Linked DNA regions of Homo sapiens. The protein of the gene in region 3 purifies or fractionates together with the protein of the main gene of each other region. This does not show direct contact. Each region holds a gene or a part of one and is shown on either strand. Other genes may lie near its edges.

Region 1 (7,141 bases), on a different chromosome or scaffold from region 3:
GGCGACAGAGTGAAACTGCATCTCAAAAAAAAAAGAAAAGAAAAACAAAAGGAATTATAAGAAAAGATCAGCCCTGTGCCCAAGAACAAAAGGCCAGGAGGAAGCTGGCCATTTTCCAGGCCTCTCTGAGAGAGGAGCAGCACACAGGCCCAAGGTTTCAAGTTAAACTCATTGAGGTTGGGTCTTGGCTCTGCCACCTGCTAGCTGGGTGACCCTGGGAAAGTCATTTGACCTCTCTGAACAGAAAATTTCCTCTCTCCAGAGAAGACTAAAGGGGAACTCGGGGGCTGAGGACAAGCACAGCCTTGAATGCTAAGGTCAGTGCACAGGACAGAGTCCTGTGTGGGAGTCAGGAGTGGCAATTGCCACTTGGTTGCTGCCTTGCCTCAGGTCCATCTCTGACCATCCCTGACCACTACCACTGAGGGGAGGGATGGGTAGCCTCTGCTCCCCTACCATGGCTATCCAGCCACCAACTCCTCAGGACCACCACAGAGGTGCCACCAGCTGGAAGGCCCAAGACCAAGTCCAGCCCAGTCACCTTGGCAGTGGATAGTTCCCCAAATCTTCTGGAGTCCTGTCTGGGCACTCAGACCTGGGCTCGGTATTGGAGCTGGACACACTGCATCCTGCTGAGTGACTTCGGGCAAGTTCACCTCTCTGTGCCTCCATTTCCTCATCTGTAAAAAAAAGGAACTTAAGGCCGGGTGCAGTGGCTCACACCTGTAATCCTACAGCATTTGGGGAAGCTGAGGGGGTGGATCACCTGAGGTCAGGAGTTCGAGACTGGCCTGGCCAACACAGTGAAACCCCCATCTCTAATGAAAATACAAAATTTAGCTGGGTGTGGTGGCAGATGCCTGTAATCCCAGCTACTGGGGTGGCTAAGGCAGGAGAATTGTTTGAACCCAGGAGGCGGAAGTTGCAGTGAGCCAAGACCACACCACTGCACTCCAGACTGGCCGACAGAGCAAGACTCCAGCTCAAAAAAAAAAAATGGGCTGTGGTGACAATTATAGAAGATGTATGATGTCTGGTCCCTGGCATGCAGCAGGTGCTCAACAAATGAACATGGCAAAGATTTCAGGCTCTAGAAGCAGATTGGCTGCCTGCATTCAGTTCTGGCTCCACCCACTTACTAACCCTCTGTCATTGGACAAGTCGCTGCACCTCTCTGAGCCTCAGTTTCTTCATCTTTAAAATGGGGGTCACAAGCCAGGCACAGTGCCTCATGCCTGTTATCCCTGCACTTTGGGAGGCTGAGGTGGGCAGATCACCTGAGGTCAAGAGTTCAAGACTAGCCTGGCCAACACGGTGAAACCCCATCTCTACTAAAAATACAAAAATTAGCCGAGTGTGGTGATGAGCGCTTGTAGTCCCAGCTACTCGGGAGGCTGAAGCAGAAGAATCGCTTGAACCCAGGAGGCGGAGGTTGCAGTGAGCCGAGATTGAGCCATTGCACTCCAGTCTGGGCAAGAAGAGTGAGACTCCATCTCAAAAAAAAAAAAAAAGTTGGGGTGGGGGGGGCGGTCACGACAATACCAAACAGAAAACACTCTCGTGAAGATTAAGGGAGAGAATAGCTGCAGAGCACTGAAAATACTGCTTGATGCTTGATAAGGAGCAAGCACTGGGAAAATATGACCTGTTACTACTCTGGTGAGCAGTTCACACAGTGAAGTCTTACACCATCTCAGTGGCTCTTTCTCCTCTCTCACTGCCTACGAGACAAAGTGGTCACCACTGCCTCCTCTTCACAGTTGAGGAAACTGAGGCCAAGAGAGTGGAGGTCAGTGAACTACCCAAGGCGTTATCTTTGTCAAATATCTCGAACTTAGAGAAAGTTCAGGTTTCCTGATGACCAGCCCTTTGCTTTTCCCAGGCGCCCCAGCCTAGGGACCCCTCCACCCAAGAACAATAAGCCTGGGCTTGGAGGGAGGGTAGGTGCCACCTCCCTGCCAGGTGCATGTCCGCACTGGGCCTTCCGTGAGTACAAGTCCCCCAGGTACCAGCAGGAGGCAGCATCGCCCGCGAGGTCTGCACGAGCGCTGCTCCCAGCGAGAAATTTGACATCCCTGTCCCTGTTTGCACAAGGCTTGATCTCCGCCTTTGAAACCTGCAGCCCCCAGGAGAATGAAAACCGGAGGTGTTTCCCAATCCGCTGGCCCGGGCGGCGTCGAGGGAGAGAAGCCAGGGCCCCTCTCAATCGCTGCCCCCTACTCCAGGGAGCACAGGCACTCCCGCGGGTCAGCGCTGGACACCAAGGTCCCAACAGGTTTACAGGCTGCCTGTGGCCTGTGGCTGCCAACGAGCTGGTGGCAGGACTGGGTCCAAGTGCCGTGCTGTTTCCATACTGGCTGCGCACAAGCCTACGTTTCTCCCTGAGGGTCGCCATCTCCCACCCAGGGCTCTGCCCTCCACCCTCCCTACCCTTCTGGCCTCGCTGTCCCTGGGGCAAGAACCCCGGTGAGCGAGGTCTGGAACCCATAGGCATCAGTTGCCTTTGCCCCAGGCGCCCAGAGCCGGCCAGCTGCGGTCCAGAGGCGCAGGTCCGCCAGCCGCCTCGCAGGTTGCCCTCAGCCCCTCCCAGGACTCCCGGGGCCCCCGGAGCATCCAACAGATACCCAGGGGCAGGGCCTGGGGCGCCGCGGACGGCACTGGAGGCAGCCGACCCTGGACAGACGACAGGGGAGAGAGCCAAGCGGACCCTGGCAGGAAGGGGGCTGGAGGCGGACGGTGGTCTCGGAGGCCACGGGGTCCGCTCGGGCTCTGCTCCCTCACGGTGGGCACGAGGGTCCGGCGCCCGCATCCCCGCGCCGCTCCCTCCCCACTTGTGCCCCGGGCGCCCCTCGCCCGCGATCACAGCCCATCTCAGCCCGGGCCTCCGCAGTGCCCGGCCCACGCCTCCTGCCCCTTCCCCGGACCCTGCCCGGGAGGTGTGGGGACCCGCAGGGCACCCAAAGCGGTAAGGGAGGAACCCGGCCCGCACACAGCCCCAGAAGCCCAGCGACCCCTAAGCCACGTACCGTCCCCAGGCAGCTCCTCGACGGCTAGAGCTCTCGGGGGCCGCGAGCTGTCCCGGTCCAAGGCAGCAGTCTGATTTCGGGGAAATTAAAAGGGCAGAAAGGAAGCGGCAGCAGAAAAACCCCCGCGCTCCCGCCAGACCAGCCCCTTAAAGGAACACGCGCACCTTTCCCTCCCAAGGGCTGGGCTCGAAGGGAGGAGCTGCTGCAGGCTTGAGCGGTCTCCAGACTCGCTGGGAACCACCGCAAAGAGGGTGTGCAAGAGTTGAGGCCCTCACGTCTTGGGAAAGGAGAGTAGGGGTGGAATAGGAGAGTTTGGGGAGGGGGGATCCCCTTAGAAAGCCTGGTATACCAAAAACAGTGGGAGTAAGCAGGGGAAGCCCCTGTCCAGCATTCTGCTAGGGGCTAAGGCTGCTCCCCACCTTTGATTGTGGAAGGGGTGAGACTTCTGTATTACTTTCTTTTCCAAATAGAAAGCAAGGGGGTGAGGCCAGGTGCAGTGAGTGGCTCATGCTTGTAACCCCAGCACTTTGGGAGGTGGAGGCCGGTGGATCACCTGAGGTCAGGAGTTCAAGACCAGCCTGGGCAACATGGTGAAACCCTGTCCCTACTAAAAATACAAAATTAGCTGGGCGTGGTGGAGCATGCCTGTAATCCCAGCTACTTGGGAGGCTGAGGCAGGAGAATTGCTTGAACCCAGGAGGCGGAGGTTGCAGTGAGCTGAGATCATGCCATTGTGCTCCAGCCTGGGCAACAAGAGCAAAACTCCGTCTCAAAAAAAAAAAAAAAAAAAAAGCAAGGGGTTGCTGATGTCCTCATGCCCCTGAGTTTGGCCATCATGAAACACTGGCCAGATTCCCAACTCACTGTCAGGCACATAGCAGGTGCTATCCCCAGCACATGGGGCTTGAATGAGTGGCCCTGGCTGGGAGGGGAGACACAGGGTGGGATACCTCTGCAGCCTGCAGGGGCAATCAGGCTTCTGAGTGGTCCTCCAACAGGGGTGGGCCTCCCTTCGGAATCCTGCTAATCAGCACAGCCATCCAGGCAGCCGCTCAGGATGCCTCTGTTTGGACAGGGTGTTTTCTTTCCTGTCCAGACCAATGGGGGCCCTGGCCTGGACAGCCCGATGTTTCCTCAGCAGAAAAGACTAAGGAGGTCCTTCAGCTTTGGCTGGGGGAAGGGTCGAAGGGTCACAGGGTCACAGAGCTCAGAGCCTCTTCCTAAACACAGCTCAAGTTGGCCCATGAGTGTGTGTGTGTGTGTGCATGTGTGTGTGTTACACACAGCCAGGGGCACATTGGAGCACAAAGAACTGTGATCAACAGGTAAACTACACCTAAAAGGAACGCCAGGCTTGATGGGCAAAGGGGAGCCAAGGTAGGTCCCTCTGCAGGTTCCCGACAGGGGAGAGGATGGACAGTAGGGAGAGCACATTTTGCTACAGTTAAGTCGAGTTGAACATGCCAGCCAGGGGTAGGGGTAGCCAGCAGGTGGAATCTGAACGCTCACCCTCTGCCTTGCAGTGGGGCAGAAAAAAGTCAATGTGTAGGGGTGATGGTAAAAGCTGGGCAAATGGAAGACACTGCTGAGGGAGAGAAGCCAAGGAAGGAAGGAGGGGGTCAGGAGTGAGGGGACTCCACTCCAGGGTCCCAGGAGGGGGACTTTTAGAAGGCTGTGGCCAACCCATCCCAGAGCAGAGATGCTTCTCCCACTGTCTGCTTATCCCCAGGGTATGCTGGAACAGGGGTTCAGGGCAGGAAACTCCCCCGGGAGGGAGACCTGAGGCTTGGAAGCACGCAGAAAGGCTTGGCTCTAAACCCAATCCACACCGCTCCGCAGAAGAGAGCTCTGAAACGGGAGGCAGTAGGCCAAGGGACACCCAGGGGAAGGGAGTCCCCCATCCTCAGTTCCTACGAAGACCACGGCCTGGGCCTTTTATTCAGACCCTGCTAGGCCCAGGAGCCCAGCAACCGCAGGTCTCAGAAAGGAACCACTTCCAGACACATTTCCCTGATGTGGTTCCAGCAAAGCCACGCCCTCCCTTTGGCAGCCCTGTGGCCCCACCTCCTGCTGCTCAGAGGCGGCCCCACCTCCTGCTGCTCAGAGGCGGCCCCACCTCCTGCTGCTCAGATGCACCCCCTGCCTGCAGAACACAGCCGGCTCCCAAAGTTTGGAAAAATTCACCTTGACAAAGAGGGTGGTTTTTCCTACACCCCTTCCCAAGCTAGCCAAGCCTCTGCCTGCAAGTCACCCTTCCAGATCACCAAGACACTGGCCCGCAAGGCCCACCCCCACTTCTTGATGACCCCCACACAGGGGAGGGCAGAGAGGGTATCCCTGGAGCACACACGCCAGTGGCCTACCAGGAACCAGTGTGTTCAGGCAGGAGGCCTCATGCCCACTTGGCAGAGCCCCGGCCCCCTCCTCCAGTCCCACGCTGCACCCACCCCAGGAACTCCCGCAGTTCGGAAGGCATCCAGGTTCACTGAGTTTCTTATAGTTTCTCCAGCCCACCACTCCAGTTGCAGAGAGAATGGAAACTGCTGAAGGGGAAAACCAGCTGCCCCAGCCAGTCTTCCTGGCAGGAAGGGAGCAAAAGCATTCAGGAGACAGTGTCTGCCAGCACTCGCTGGGCCCCTGACCAGGCAGCAGTTGTAGGGCTCAGGGCCAGACGGCATGGAGGTAGAAAGCAGAGGGAAGAGGGGAAGTCAGGTTTTGAGGACCTGGAAGTCCTGACTTCCTTCAGGCCGCCCTGGACCAAAGTCTCCAGCCTCCTGCTATGAAGCTATGTGTAGTCAGGCAGGTGACATAAAGAAAGATGGGGCTGGGCACGGTGGCTCACGCCTGTAATCCCAGCACTTTGGGAGGCCGAGGCAGGTGGATCACAAGGTCAAGAGATTGAGACAATCCTGGCCAACACGGTGAAACCCTGTCTCTACTAAAAATATAAAACTTAGCTGGGCATGGTGGTGTGCACCTATAGTCCCAGCTACTTGGGAGGCTGAGGTAGGAGAAATGCTTGAACCCAGGAGGCAGAGATTGCAATGAGCCGAGATCACACCACTGCACTCCAGCCTGGCGACAGAGCAAGACTCCATCTCAAAAAAAAAAAAAAAAAAGCAAGCAAGCAAGCTGGGGCTCAGGGAGGACCACAGGTGGGGGATGGGGAAACCAGCGCAATTTAAATCCCATTCCCATGAAACAATAACGAACCACACCAAGAGTTCCCGTGAAGAAGATAAATATATTTTGGAAGCTGCCTGTGTCCTCTGGGGTGAAAAGCCAGCATAGAGGGCCCCAAACGCCCACCCTGCCAACCCATGCCCTCCTCTGACCTCGCTCCCTTTCTCCCCATAGACCCGCCCCACCCCCTTCTGTGTCGCTGGGCTTCAGGACAAGGGGCAAGAGAGGCAACCAGGGAGACAAGGGGAAGTGTCTTGGGGACAGGGGGCCACAGCAGTTGTGGCCACATGGTACCCCAGGGCCGACGCAGGGCCGACGGGCAAGAGGCTGTTATCTCCAGCCTGGCGCTTCCGGGCCTTTCTTGAGGCCACCATGGGAATGTGATGTGTGAGAGAGGGGCTAGGAGAGACAGAGACACACGCACCTGGGATCGGCGGTCCGGACAGGGGCAGGGAAACCACACGCCCTACTTTGCCCTTTCCTGTCCATCCCAGACCTACTCAGATCCCTCAGTGCCTAAGAAAACAGGACAGTGAGGACTGGGGGTTAGGGGACGGGGCTTAGGGGCTGGGGCAGGGCCCGTGAGAGGTGGAGGGTGGGAAAGAGGGAGGGAGGGGTGACTGTGTGGTGGTGCTGCCTCTGAACACCCTCCCCTTCCCCAGTCCCCAGCCCTATGGTGATTTAAAGGGGCTGAGAAGCCAAGAGGCAGCGGGCCCATGGAAAGCAGGAAGACCTGGGGGTGGCAGGTGGCCACTAACAGCCCAGCAGCTCCAGGCGCAGGGCGATGCGGTTGTGCCAGGCTACAGGCAGGATGCGCACATAGCGAGCCAGGATGGGCGTCTCAAACAAGTTCTTCTTGTGGGAGTGGTTGTCCCAGTTGCCAGGGAAGATCTAGAGGCAGAGCGGGTGTCAGGAGGACCCCGAGCCAGCCC
Region 2 (7,112 bases), on a different chromosome or scaffold from region 3:
AGAAATAATAACGACCTTTCATACAGGGTTGCTGGGATGATCAGTGATTTTGCTAATATCAAAAGTGCCCAGCACAGTGCTTGGGTTGTTGGAGGCATTGAACACATGGCATTGTTATTATTTATATGCCTTGTAACTGGAAGAGCCTGTGGGCAAACAGTGGATGCTAAAATTCAGTTTGCGGAAGAACCAGGTGCACAAACTCCTGTTCTACCTGTGGTTGAGTCTACACTCCCCCACCACACCCCAGCTGCTCTGATCTACCTCCTGTTCCTTGAGCAGGCCATTTTCTTTCTTGCTTCAGGGCGTTTGCAATGGCTGTTGCCTGGAATACCCACCTCCTGCCTTTCTCACCACTGACTCTTTCTCATCCTTTGGGCCCCATGTCCAATGTCATCTTTGCCCGTGGGAGCCCTGCTTGGGTTCCTGAGTCTCTTGTAAAATCTCAAACATCTTAGGAAGAGTTTAGGTTTTGTTAGTCATTCACATCTTGGTGTGAATTCGTCAGAGCAGGTTGGATTTTTTTTTTTTTTTTTTTTTTTTTTTTTGGTGGCAGGGCTGGGTGGCTTACTCTTGGCTGGGCTCAACTGCATTGAGGGTTATGGTGATGATTAGGTGTACCTGCAGGCCACCTGGGGGCACAGAGAACTTTGCATGAATGGGGTCAGGGTGTGGGGAGAGCAGTGCAGCTGATAGGGCACTGGGCCCTGGGCCCTGGACCCTGGAGGGTGCTAGGAAGTCTCCATCTAGTTAGACATTTCTCAAGAGCTGGATATGGTTCCAGGAAGGACTCTTCCTGGCTCTGTTCTTTCTCTTTTTGCGGCAGGCCTCAGTACTTAGCTTTAGAGTGAGTTGAATAAGCACTTCCAGACTAGACTGAACTTACAAAACCCATCCATCCTTCCTTTGCTTAGCACCATTTGCCAAGCACATCCTGCCCTGGGCAGCAGTGATGACCAAGACACAGGAGCTCAGCCAAGGGGAGGTGGTTCAGGCTGACCAGGTAGATCCTGGCAGTGACTGGGTCTTTCTGGGGAGCAACAGTCACTCTCATGTGCCTGACAGGTAAGGCACTTCCGGAGCACACTTTTCAGCTGAGGCCAGAGGCACAGCTTCCCCTTGTTTGAGCATCTCAGCCATCACACACTGTTGGACACTCATGCTTTTTGCATCTGCATAAAGGATGTACCCATGTTTTCCTAACTCCCATCCCTGGATGTCCTGTGTGATTTCAGAGTAGTCTGTTTATTCCCACAGAGTTGTCCTGATTTTATAGTTGAGGAAGTGAAGGATGCTTGGGAATTGCTAAGGTCATCATGGGGTCCTGAGGCTGTCTGAACGCAGCAGGCAGGCAGGTTTTCCTGCATGGAATTGTCTGCAGGTTTTGAACTGGTTGTGCCCTGGATACCATCTACTTTCTGCCCAGGAAACCACACTGAAGAGGGGATGCTGCTTGTGGGAGACTCAGCATTCAGTGAAATCTGCACCCTTATGGTGGACGTTGCAGCTGATCTCCACAACAGTTAGTCTCTCTTCTTCCAAGGAGAACACATATGGTTCCTAGTAAGAGATCTCAGGCCATAGCTGGATGTGATCAGTGCAAGGATGATCTCATTCCCCTTGCAGTGACTGGTTCCAGAATGGATGTGGGAGTCAGTTCTGGAGGTTGAGTGGAAAGTAGGGAGAACCACAGGTAGTTGGTCCCTCTCTTGTGATGGGAACAGGGAAACCTTGTGGTGGCTGGCAGCCATCTGACACCATGAGGGGAGCAAGTCTTAGGCCACCACCGTTGATGGCAGGGCAGAGAGTGAGTGAGATCCAGGACATAGAGGCCTGATGTCCAGGCCGCCTCTGAACTTCCAGTTACATGAGCTGTTACTTTTCCTTTTCGTTGTGCACTTTCAAGTCTCCGTTACTTGCAGCCCATAGCACCCCAACTCGTACAGCCCTGACTGCTTATCAAGAAAACCAGGAGGCTGATCTGTAACCCACAGCTAAGACTCGAGATACATAAAACCCAGAGGGATTTTTGTTTGCTTTCTGTTTTGAGAACCCTCTTTCATTTCACTCAAGTCAAGGTTGCCAATTTCTGGTTTTCCCTCCTCAGTCCTATTGAGGAGGTATTTTTGGTCAGATAAGAGAGCCTGAGATCTGGCATCGGGAGATCTGGGTTCCTGGTGGGGTCTGACCCTGGGTCTGTAATATTGGGCAGGTCACACGGTCTCTCTGAGCCTCAGTTTATTCTTAATAGATCAGTAAGTGATGATGTCTATTCTTTAGGGGCCAGAGTTAGACTAGCCCTTAGAACTGTCATCAGACTGGCTAGCCTAACTTCCACCCCAACCTATGGGGAAACTGAGGCTAAGAGGGGGGACATTAGTGGTGGCACAGAGGGAGATTAGGGAGAGTCAGCCTTTGACTTTTGAAAATCAAGATGTGGACTGTTCAGATTCTGTGTTCCTTTCGCTTCTGTTTGGAAACGCCACTTACATAAGCTTCCCTTGGGCTTCACAGCGAGTGTGGGCTCCATTTCAGTGCTGGGGTGCCCTCCATCAAATCACATCACTTTCTGAGCCTCAGTTTCCCTGCACTGCCTGGTGCCCTGGGTTGTCATGAGGCTGTAAGGAGCCAAGGGCATGTGGACTCTGAAGTTCTACACGTGTAAAAGGCGACTGCTGTCAATTTCCCCAAATTGTAGTGTAGGCCAACTCCCACGCCCCTGCTGTAAGCAATGTGCTCCTTTCTTTTTAATCAACCCGAACTTAAAGCTTGGCGCAGTCACAGAGCACGGTTTTTCTCATTTTCTTTCTGGAAGATGAAAATCAAATTCTAATAAAATTTTTCCACTCCATCTCCTGACTGTTGTCATTTGCTACACTTTTTAGTGTTTATCCTTAAAGCTTGCAGAGCTAAGGGATGTTTGGTAAGAAGTGTTTAGGCCTTGAGACTGGAAGAGCCGCTGTATGAAGCGCTAGGCTCCATGGAGAGTGTGATGGGGAGTAAGAGAAGGAGAGTGAACTCCTGTGAGTCCACCAAGCAGAGGGACATACTCTCAGCAACTGGGGTATTTCCTTCCAGTCTTTTTTTAATGCCCATGTCTGTTTTTAATGAAAACTGTAATCTGTCTGTATCAACAATTTTGAAGGCTACTTTTCTAGTTTGGCATGAGATTATAGGAATTTTCCAGGGCTTTGCTCCAGGGCTGGCTTCATGGATATGCAACCTGTGTGGTCATCTAGGTCCCCACACTCAGAAGGACCTGTGCTTGGGTTCATGTTCTGCTGTTACTATCTTGAAATTTTTAAGAATTTCACTTTGGATCCTGTGTTTTGTAAGCGAAATCTGATGGGACGGGGGAGCCTGGGAATGAGCAGAGGGGTACGTGTGGCAGGCGAGTCTGTGGTTACACATATTGGCTCCCACAGCACGCTACCCTGTGTTCACTTGAGCGTCTGAGCCCCATGCACAGTGGACAGCTCATGCACCTTCTCAGTGCGTCTGTAGTTTCACAGGCAGGGGCCATGCTTTCAAATAATGCTCCAAGGCATTGATGTTCTCATGCAGTGACTTCTAAGAAACATGAATGACGCAGGAACCCTATGGTGTCCTTTCTTAACGTGTGTTACGTGCCCATATTTGCCAATCGCTGACACTGAAAATGATTACACAGAAGGGAAGGGAAAAAGAGGGCACCTATAGTTCCTTTTCCTCCTAGTCCTTCCTTGTTTATTATTGAACCAAGGGTAGAGGGTGTTGGAAGAATGTACACATATCCAGAAATGAAATAAGAACAGTTAAGTTAGTTTCCTCTGCTCTGGTAAGAACAAAATCCATATGCGAAATATAACTTGTGCATTTTGGTGAGTCTACATTCCAGTTACGTGCTCTTATGTTTGCATTTAAAATTGGAGGTGCACACTAGAATGGTGAGTGATAAAATGCACGCTAAGAGTTTAAGCTTTTTTTTTTTTAAATTTGAATTGACATTAAATAGCAAATAACACCATGACAAAATATGGAAGGCATGAAAAGGTTTTGTATCTTAGCACCTTTAATGATGCTTTTCCTTTGCTTTTTGAATAAGAGGCTCTGCATTTTCATTTTTCCCTGTGCCCCACGAATTATAGGGTTGGCCCTGCTCTGCTGGAACTCTGGGTAGGGTGAACTCCTTGGCCCTGCCTTCTACCTCCTTGGCTTTCGTGATTGGTGGAAATGGTGAGAGCCTGCCATCCATTGGGCAGCTCTTCCCTATGGGGAGGGGTTACAATATTAAATGTCCGTGCTCCTCTCTCACCCATTGGGTCCATGGGCCTCTGACTTCCAGGTTGCTCTACAGGGGAGAGGCCAACAGTTATCTTATTTTACAAGCTAGAAGTTAGACCTACCTCTCCCCGCAGGACCAAGGGGTGGGGAGGTGAAGTAGGGGTCCATAGCTCTTTTTTTTCCTACAGGTTTACCATTAATAAAGCAGATTTTTTTATTCCTGTCTTGCGGCCAGTCTTTTCTGTGTAATCCCAAGTCCCAGCAAGGAAGAGGGGTGACTGGTTACCTTGGCCCCGCCCCCAAGTCACACAGTACACGTATTGACAACCATCATTTCATTGGCTGCATACTATTCCTGTGATACATGTGTCATCATTCAGTAGTTCAATTAATCATTTCCTTATGGCTGGATATTTAGTTCCCTCCCTTCCCTCCCTCCCTCCCTTCCTCCCTTCCTTCCTTCTCTCTCTCTCTGTCTCTCCCCCACACACTTTCTTATTTTCATAACTAACACTGCAGGAATGAACACCATTTGTGTGTGTGAAGACCCCCTACTCCCATCGTTCCCCCTTAACCTTGGGATGATGCTCTTCAGAAGGAATTCCACACGTGCTATTTCATATAAAGATCACTAGCATTTTTAATGTTGTTGACACACATTGGCAGATTATTCTCCAGAAAGTTTTTCTCTTTAACCACATGCTGATCAACATTAGGTAGTCTAATTTGTTTGACCTTTGCAAATATCAAAGATGAAAAATATTTATTGTAATTCACGTCTGCATACCAATGAGGTTGAACATTTTTTCCTTTTGTTCAGCGGGTATTGGCTGATCCCTGTTATGTGCCAGGGTGACATTAGATTCTAGACATACAAAGTTGAAGAGCAAGGCTGTGTCTGCCTTGAAATGTGGACTCTCCTCTCCCAGTGTCTTGGGTGCCACTGCGGGACCTAGCTACTTCTCAGGAGAGAGTCTGAAGCTGCTGGAGGAGTCTGTACATCCCTCAGCACCCTGGGGAGTCCTGTTAGTTACACAGGGCCTTGCAAAGACAGGCATCTCACCATTAAGCCCTTGAGCAGAATGATCCAAGTGGACTTTAGGATGAAATAATTACAAAACAAACACAATAGCCATTATTATGATTCACCATTTATTGGCTATGTACTATAATACTATATGCTGGACATGAGGCTGCGTGCATCTCATTGGAGATGCCCCAGACCTGATGTTGTGTATATTATTTCCCCATTTTACAGAGGAGAAAACTGAGGCTGAGGTGCTTGTTCAATGTCACATAGTTTGTAAGGGACAGAGCTGAGTTTTGAATGCAGCCTGCCAAACCCACGCTCCTGACTGCTACATTAATTGGCTGGGACCCACAGGGCAGGGTTAGGTGGCCTGTTCAGTTCTGATTATGCACCACACTTAGGAGATTTTGGGATTTGAACTAGACTACCTGGCTTGGTGCTCTTGCTATCTGTGTTGCGATGAAAGGCAATCGAGAGGGTTCAGCAGGAGGAGAGACCCCCTTCACGGCACAGGTAGATGGCAGTGGCAGAGGCCACAATTGGACACGTGGTCCAGGGACTGAAGGGCAGGTGGCATTTCCAGGTTGGGGGGTGATGATGTGCTGGGACATGGTATTCTAGCGCATTCTGGGCAGGAGGAACGGTGTGTGCAAAGTGGCATAACACTTGTCCCCTGACAGTGTCCAGCTCCTCTGCTTGAGACCAGGAGGCAGTTAGTTAGTTGCCAGCCGGCCCGGGAGCAGGACACACCTGGGGGCCCCTGTGCTGCCCAGGACAGGCACTGCCCTCCTTGCACAGTGGGGGCCATTGTCCTCCAGAACCCAGGGCTGAATGTCCCATTGAGGCAGAACAAAGGCTGCTCAGAGGTTCCCAGCTGGGGTGTGGGCTGCCGCAAGCAGGGATGGGATCTCCAACTGCAGGCCAAGGGCCTCCTCCAGGCTGGCCTGGCCTCCTGCAGCCCCACCCCCACCCCTCCTCAGGACCAGGACTGTTGCTGCTGGAGGCTGGACCTGGGCTTGGGCTCCCAGGCCTGTGCTCTGGGTCTGGCACAGCTGCCGTGCCCTTGGCAGCTTCTTCATCCCCTGGGCAATTTCCCCATCTATGAAGCAGAGAGAGAGCGAGCTCCCAACCAGCAAGGCTTTCAGGCAGAATTGAATGAAATAGTGCACACTCTGTAGGTTAATCTCAATAAAAGGGAGCTCTTTCATGATCATGATTAGCTTCTGAATGTTTTTTTACAATTTCAAAAAAGTTTTGATGCAAACTTTCAAATTTGTGCCACTTCTGGGCCAAAGTGTTTAAGAAGGGAGTGCACCTTCCCCCCTCCCTCTGTCCCAGAGAAGGGAGAGATGCCGCTCCCTGGAGCCCCTCATCACTCTGTGGAAGGGACTGCTGGCCAACTGTTACAAGAGGAGAAACTTCTTTGCATTTGTGAGAAAATAGTCTATTGAACTGCTTCCAATCTATCAAGATCTTGCTGTACTTCCTTCATTTACTCTCCCCTGCTTTTGGATGAAGAATTTTTAGGCAAATCCAAGACTCCTGTCATTTCCCCGTTCCATCTGCAGGCATCTCTGAGTGTTGAGGGCATTTCTTGTAGCCCAGTGCTGTTATCCCACCTCACAAAACATATCCTGATTCTTTGTTACCTAAATTCTGGTCCATTTTATGAACGTCCCCAGTTGTCTGAGAAATGTCTCTTATGGTTGGGTGGTTTGGCCCAGGATCCAAAGTCCTGCACCTGCGTTTGGCTGTTCTGTCTCTTGTCTTTTCTGACCTAGACTCAGCCTCCATCCCCTTTTCAGGCTACCAACTTGTT
Region 3 (5,905 bases):
CCGAGCTGGGGACGCTATGGTGAGGATGGAGAGGTGGTGGCAGAGGGAATGACATGGCTGGGACTGCGGAACAGGGTGCAAGGGTGGGCAACTGAGCCAAGCGTGGAGCAGAGTGCTGAAGACAACGAGCCCACAGAAGAATCAGCCCCCAGGGGAAACGAGAGCTCTTTAGACGCGCTGAGAGTGAGGGAGCAAATCTTGGTAGATACTGAAGTCTGGAGCTCAGGAGAGAGGCAGGGGCTGGAGACCAGTTTTGAGAGTCCTGAGTGGATTAGATCACCTTGGGAAAGCAAGAGGCAGCAGGAATGGAGGCTCAGTGAAGTGCAGTCATGGGCCAAACCCTGGAAAAGACAATGTTTTAAAGAGAGCTGGGGCACAGATGTGAGAAAAAGGAGGTCCAGAAGGGTCCAAGAAGCAGGAGGAGAACCAGGAGAGAAGGGTGGTTCCTGAGACCAGGACGGTTCAGGAAGACCAACAGCACGCACTCCTTCGGGGCCCCCCTGCTGCTCTCTCTTGCTGGACTTTGCTTAATGTGAGCAAACTGTCACAAATAAGCTGATTGAGCTCCCATCAAAAGAAAACTGCAAGCATGCCTCTCTCATCTTTTAACTGTTTATTGTATAATATAAAACTACAAAAGTAAGACTGCTCATTTCCATGTACATTTAATCTGTCCAATTGTTTAGATTACAGCCCAAACCTACATGTGAATACAGCCATCTGGGTTCCGATGTAACGTCTGTAATATTGCATAGAAAAGGCACAGCTCTCAGGTCTGTGGGGGAAAGGTTATACCTCCTTTTTGACAAAAGCCCTCCTCAAAAACCATGCACCAAACATGTCACTATGTACATCTTTTTTCAAAATCTCGGTCATGCGCACATATGGCCTGCATTTCTCTTCCAAAACTTGTTATCCCCAAAAGAAGTCCAACTTTTTATTGGCTTTGTCTGCAATAGCATTTGATCCTGGCTAATTTTCAAGAACCATTCAGACTCATTCTTAGAAACACTGAAAACAATTGTACATAAGCAGGATGCACACAACTCCATGCCTCCAGGTGCGGGGCAGTTACAGGAAGGTAACCATTTACAGCCAGAAAAGGTTAAATATACTCTTTTCATTGTTTTCAGAAAATGTATAAAGGTCCAATTTGTAACAGCAAGGTTTTCAAATTAAGACAATTCGTATAGAGTAGCAATTGCTGCACGAAGTAGAGTCTTTTTTTTTTTTTTTTTTACATTTGTCATTTAAGAAGGCTGCCCTGCGGTATTCATAATTCATTGTTTACCACAAAGGTGGTTCATAAATTTAAGCTTTAAAAACGATCTGTAAGTTGATACTTTGGCTCTTTGGAGCTTATTTCATTAAGAAATTTTCCTTGATTGACCTCAGGGCAGCTGGGGCACTCCAAGGGGCTATGGCGATAAAAAGCTCAATTGGTAAAGACACTCGAGAGGTGCAGAGGAGGCTCTGGCCACTGCTCACCCTTTGGTATGAACAAGGGTGCCCATGTGGTTGCTCCTTCTGTCATCCAGAGAAAGTGCTACTAAAAAAACTTTAAAAAATATCAACCCTTTGATGCTTTTCTTAAAAATTTGGAGGTATTAAAACATTCCTCATACCTTTTGCATATTTCAAATAGACCCATATTAGAGAAGAGTAAAAATGAATGCGGACTGTGCATACAATGAGAAGACCTGGGGGCCTGGCTTGGACCCCCTTTTAATACAGATTTACATTCCTACAAGAGAATACATTCCTACCATACATTCTGCACATGTTACGATCCAGATGTTAGCGCTCCACAGTAAAATAAATATATTTACACAGAAAAAAGGAATAAATAACTTATGGGGGGAAAAAAACTCACTTCAAATTCAAAGCTCTTACGATTCTGCTCTCATCTTGTCACTTCATTGCACATCAGTGTCAATAACTGTCCTCTCCCAGCCCCAGCTCGGTTTTCTCGTAAAGGCACCTCAAGCTGCCTGCCTGGCCCTGGATGCCATGTGATGTCTTTCATAAAGGGAAGGCACTGCTGGAAGCACATCCCACACTCAAACTGGGACTTGGAGATCCCACTCCAGCTCCTACTGTTCCCTGTTGGGACATCACTTTGTAAGAATAGGATGCAAAAGCAATTAGAACCCTAGATCATTTTGATCTTTCTGAAAATGGGCTGCTAATTTTCCATGTCTTTCTTGTTAGACTTTGAGTATCAGGGATTTATGGCAACGGTGTCAGAGTTAAAAAGCATTTGCCTGCTGTTTTTGGGGTTTTTGTTTTGATTTTGAAGCCCAGCCTTACAAATACATAAGAGTCAGAGAACCAAGTTTGGGCAACACTTCTCCGTGCTTATTTGAACTGTTGCCCAACATATGGGATTTGTTTAAACACATGATTTGCTAATCCAACAAAAGTACAGTTGTTGTAAGTTACTGTAAATCAGTTTTTAACAATGGCAAACCAACTGTTTTACCCTGTTATTGTTCAGAATCATCAATACTATTGTATATGTGTACGTAGGTAGATGTGTGCAGCATGCGGCAGGTTTGCCAGGTCCTCCAGTTATAGAAAGCATGGAATCTGGGCAGACTTGTTCTCTGCAAGAAAGGGAAGCTCTTAAAATTAACAGGCATACTGACACTGGAAGCATCTACTACAACCCTCACCTCAGTTACATGGTCCCTGGTCCTATTAAAGGAAATGACACACCTGTAGCAGTACGAGGTGTCTGCGTGGAGGTTGCTTGTAGGAGAACAAGTGCAATTTGATCAGTTTCTCACTGCTCTACTGAGCTGATAATTAGCCTTTAAAACACATTCAAGTGGGGGGAAAAAGTAAATTAGAATGTAGAAAGCCTTTATCATATCATACTCAAATCTTTTGCTTAGATGAGCAGTTCCTTCATCACAAACGTCTTTGCTTTGCCATGTGCATTACAAAAATAAAACTAACTATGGCTTGCTTAAAGTGCCATTTTATAAAGTTGTCTTTTTTAATTAGCCAGAAAGACCCAATTTTATCCATGGCAAGAAGTGAGCAGAATTGGTGACTGAATATTGACAAATGACCAACAACAAAGACAACAACAACAACAAAACATCCCATAATTTAAAAATTTTTAAATAAATATAAAAGTTATTCCTAAAGAAGCCATCTGCATAACAATATAGGTTGTAACCTGCACTCAACAGCTAAAGTACCATTGGAAGAAAAGAAAAAACTGAAACAAGAAGGCCATAAACAGTTTCGGCAACAAGCATGATACATTGCAACCTTTTTAAAATTAAATGTACACCACTAGGAATAAAAAGCTACTTCTCAAGTGTGTCCTGGGAGATAAGGTGATGGGGGGGGGAATTGGGGGGAGGAGGGAAAACATGCATAGAAAGTCCTGTCTGAGTTTTGGGGTAAAACAGCCTTGACAAGTGTGAAGTAGCTGACTCAGGAAAGCAACCAGATGGGAAGCTGTGACGTAATGTGATGAACTCCAGGTTCAAGAGTCACACATGTTGTAAGAGTGCATCCCGGGCCGGCCGAGGCGAGCCAAGCTCACTGTGGTGATCACGAAGATGCCATTTTCAGCTCTTAGCAACACAGGGAAAGCTCTAGGGAAAGGAAGCTGCAGAAGACAATTAAGCAACATGATGGATGCCTTCTGGGGAGATTTTCTTCTTTAAGGGCCCTAAGCATTGCAACAGGGCTGAGTTCCATGAAGAAGTTGGTTGCTTTTCGGATGTAAAATTTTGTTCGGATGTAAAATTTCAGGTCATCATAAAAATTATGCCAAAAAGGAAAGATCTGGGTTTTCATTAAAAAACAAAATAAAAACAATTAAAAGCGCAAACTTGGCATAAATACACTCTTAAGAAAGACAGTAGCTTTACCCTCAAAAGAGGGAGCAAAAGAGAACCATCACTTAAACCCCCAGCTCCACAGCCATCTCCCGCCAACTGCTTAATGCAAGTTTGATGAGCACATGTGGCTCTGGCTTTGGAAGTCACAGTACTGGCGGGTGTTGGTGCCAGGGGGTCAGTGCTTGTGAAATTTGGGTGTGATATCACCTGGCCCTTTCTTAAAGCACTGTGTGTGTGTTTATGGGTGTGTGCATGTGTGTGCCTGTGTTTGCATTTGGGGACATCAACTGCAGATTGATTTGATCCAATTTTCTCTTGCACCATACACATATAAAACATTACAACTCTATAAAAGTACAAGTGCAACTTGTACATCTGAAGTTTGCAGGAACTATGTGAGCAAATCCTATCAAAATAGCTATCTCATATGTATAAACAGCATTTGTTTTTAGAAAAACAATATCATAAACTGCAGAATCTGTACAAAAATATAAAATAAATTTGGGCAGCAGTTTTCTAAACAGCCATGTAAATGCAACACTTACGAGGAGTAGTTAATGCCTCTAAAAAGGCCGAATTGCCAAGTCAACCTATACAGGGCAAAAATGCCAGAAAAGGTACTGAGATTATCTAAATAAGATATATATATATAGTTTTCTTCTTTACCTCTTGCAATAAAACTTATAGAAAAAATAGACAAATATGCACATGCAATTTACAGCTTTTCCAACTTAATCCTTGTGCTTCACTTGAACTGTTTATTTTTGTCATTCAACATTGCAACATTGTCTTCAAATGGATTCTTTCCTATACCAGGGTAGTAGGTCTCTGAGGAACCACTCAAAAAAGTGTATTAAAAGTGGTCATACTTGGATGAAGGCACTCCAACTCTGCTCAAAGCAAAAACTAGTGTGATCCTGTTGTAAAATTTTCTTTTTCTCTGAAAAAGGCAAGCAAGGGTGCATGCACAGTGTGGAGAACTGTCAGGGTTATGGGAACGCTCTGGGGTCTGGGTGGGCATAGTCGCTGGGTCCCTGGGTCTTAGGACCCAACAAGCACCTCCATGATGTGGTCCAGCTCTGTGAGGTCCATTTTGAAAGGCTGACTTGGGGTGACAGGCTGACTGCTGTAAGGAGCCAGAGTTTTGAGGAGGTCGTCGGCAGACACAGGGGCCATTTTTGAGGCTGTCCCTGATGAGGAAGTGCAGGGGTCAAAATCATACATGGACGTATCAATGTCAGCAAACAGGATGTCATCCAGGGTCAAGTCTGTCAGGAAACCCGTGGACGTCGTTATTTCAAAATTCCCAGGCAGAGAGTCCATCAGTTTTGAGTCATCTGCGCGGCTCTCTTGAGGACCGTCGAGTTTCTGGGTGCCAGCCTCGCTGGAGGTCCCTTTCACACTGTCAGTCGCAGCCGTGGCCGCCTCTGTGGAGGTAGATGTGGGACAGAGCTCCTCGATCTCGTCCAAGGCAGAGGAGAAACTGTCCTTTTCTGGCAAGAGGGCTGGAGGTGACAGTTTGGTGGGAGCCGTGGGCTGCATGGCCTGGGAGGTGCAAAACGTGTCATCGTCGTCCTCGAGCAGTGAGGCCGGGGTGAGGCAGGCCTCCAGGGGCGTAGTGCTTCCGAGGTCGCAGGGGTGGGAGGACGGGGACGCCAGGTGGCTGAAGGCCGGCGGGGCCTCTCGGTAGCTGTCGCTGGGCTCGGTGGTGGGCTGGGAGGAGGGGGTGAACATGGGCCTCAGGCTGCCTTCCTGTTTGAGTTCCTCCTGGATCCGCCTCAACATGTTGTTAATTAAAACGGTCTTTTGCAAGCTGGGCTCTGTCAGGGGCCTGTGGTTATAGAGTTTCATAAGGGAAATGTTGAAGATAGTCTGGCGCTGTAAGGTGTAAGACACCTTGGATGGACCGTCACAGGGAGACACGATTTTGCCTTCCAGCCCATCTTCATGCTCATCAAACTTCCGTTTTCCTCCTTTACCCAACATATATCTGCAGAGGGGAGAGAGAGGAAATGGCATTAATCACATGAAAGCTGATTTCT

Evidence for each region.
Region 1: the proteins of SERTAD2 (region 3) and HAPLN3 purify together in Homo sapiens (co-immunoprecipitation; 2 studies listed by BioGRID and IntAct, with this or other methods). This does not show direct contact.
Region 2: the proteins of SERTAD2 (region 3) and PPP2R2C purify together in Homo sapiens (co-immunoprecipitation; 2 studies listed by BioGRID and IntAct, with this or other methods). This does not show direct contact.

The regions. Positions count from the first base shown.
Region 1 is NC_000015.10:88,892,433-88,899,573, forward strand, and holds the start of HAPLN3 (hyaluronan and proteoglycan link protein 3 isoform 2 precursor), read right to left. Parts: upstream 3,113-7,141; 5' UTR 3,027-3,112; intron 681-3,026; coding exon of another isoform or gene 542-680; intron 1-541. Other genes in the region: MFGE8 (lactadherin isoform a preproprotein), read right to left, coding at 6,963-7,100. UniProt on the Homo sapiens protein: May function in hyaluronic acid binding.
Region 2 is NC_000004.12:6,462,514-6,469,625, reverse strand, and holds part of PPP2R2C (protein phosphatase 2, regulatory subunit B, gamma), read left to right. Parts: intron 1-7,112. UniProt on the Homo sapiens protein: The B regulatory subunit might modulate substrate selectivity and catalytic activity, and might also direct the localization of the catalytic enzyme to a particular subcellular compartment.
Region 3 is NC_000002.12:64,631,023-64,636,927, forward strand, and holds the end of SERTAD2 (SERTA domain-containing protein 2), read right to left. Parts: exon of another isoform or gene 5,902-5,905; intron 5,854-5,901; 5' UTR 5,850-5,853; coding exon 4,905-5,849; 3' UTR 599-4,904; downstream 1-598. UniProt on the Homo sapiens protein: Acts at E2F-responsive promoters as coregulator to integrate signals provided by PHD- and/or bromodomain-containing transcription factors.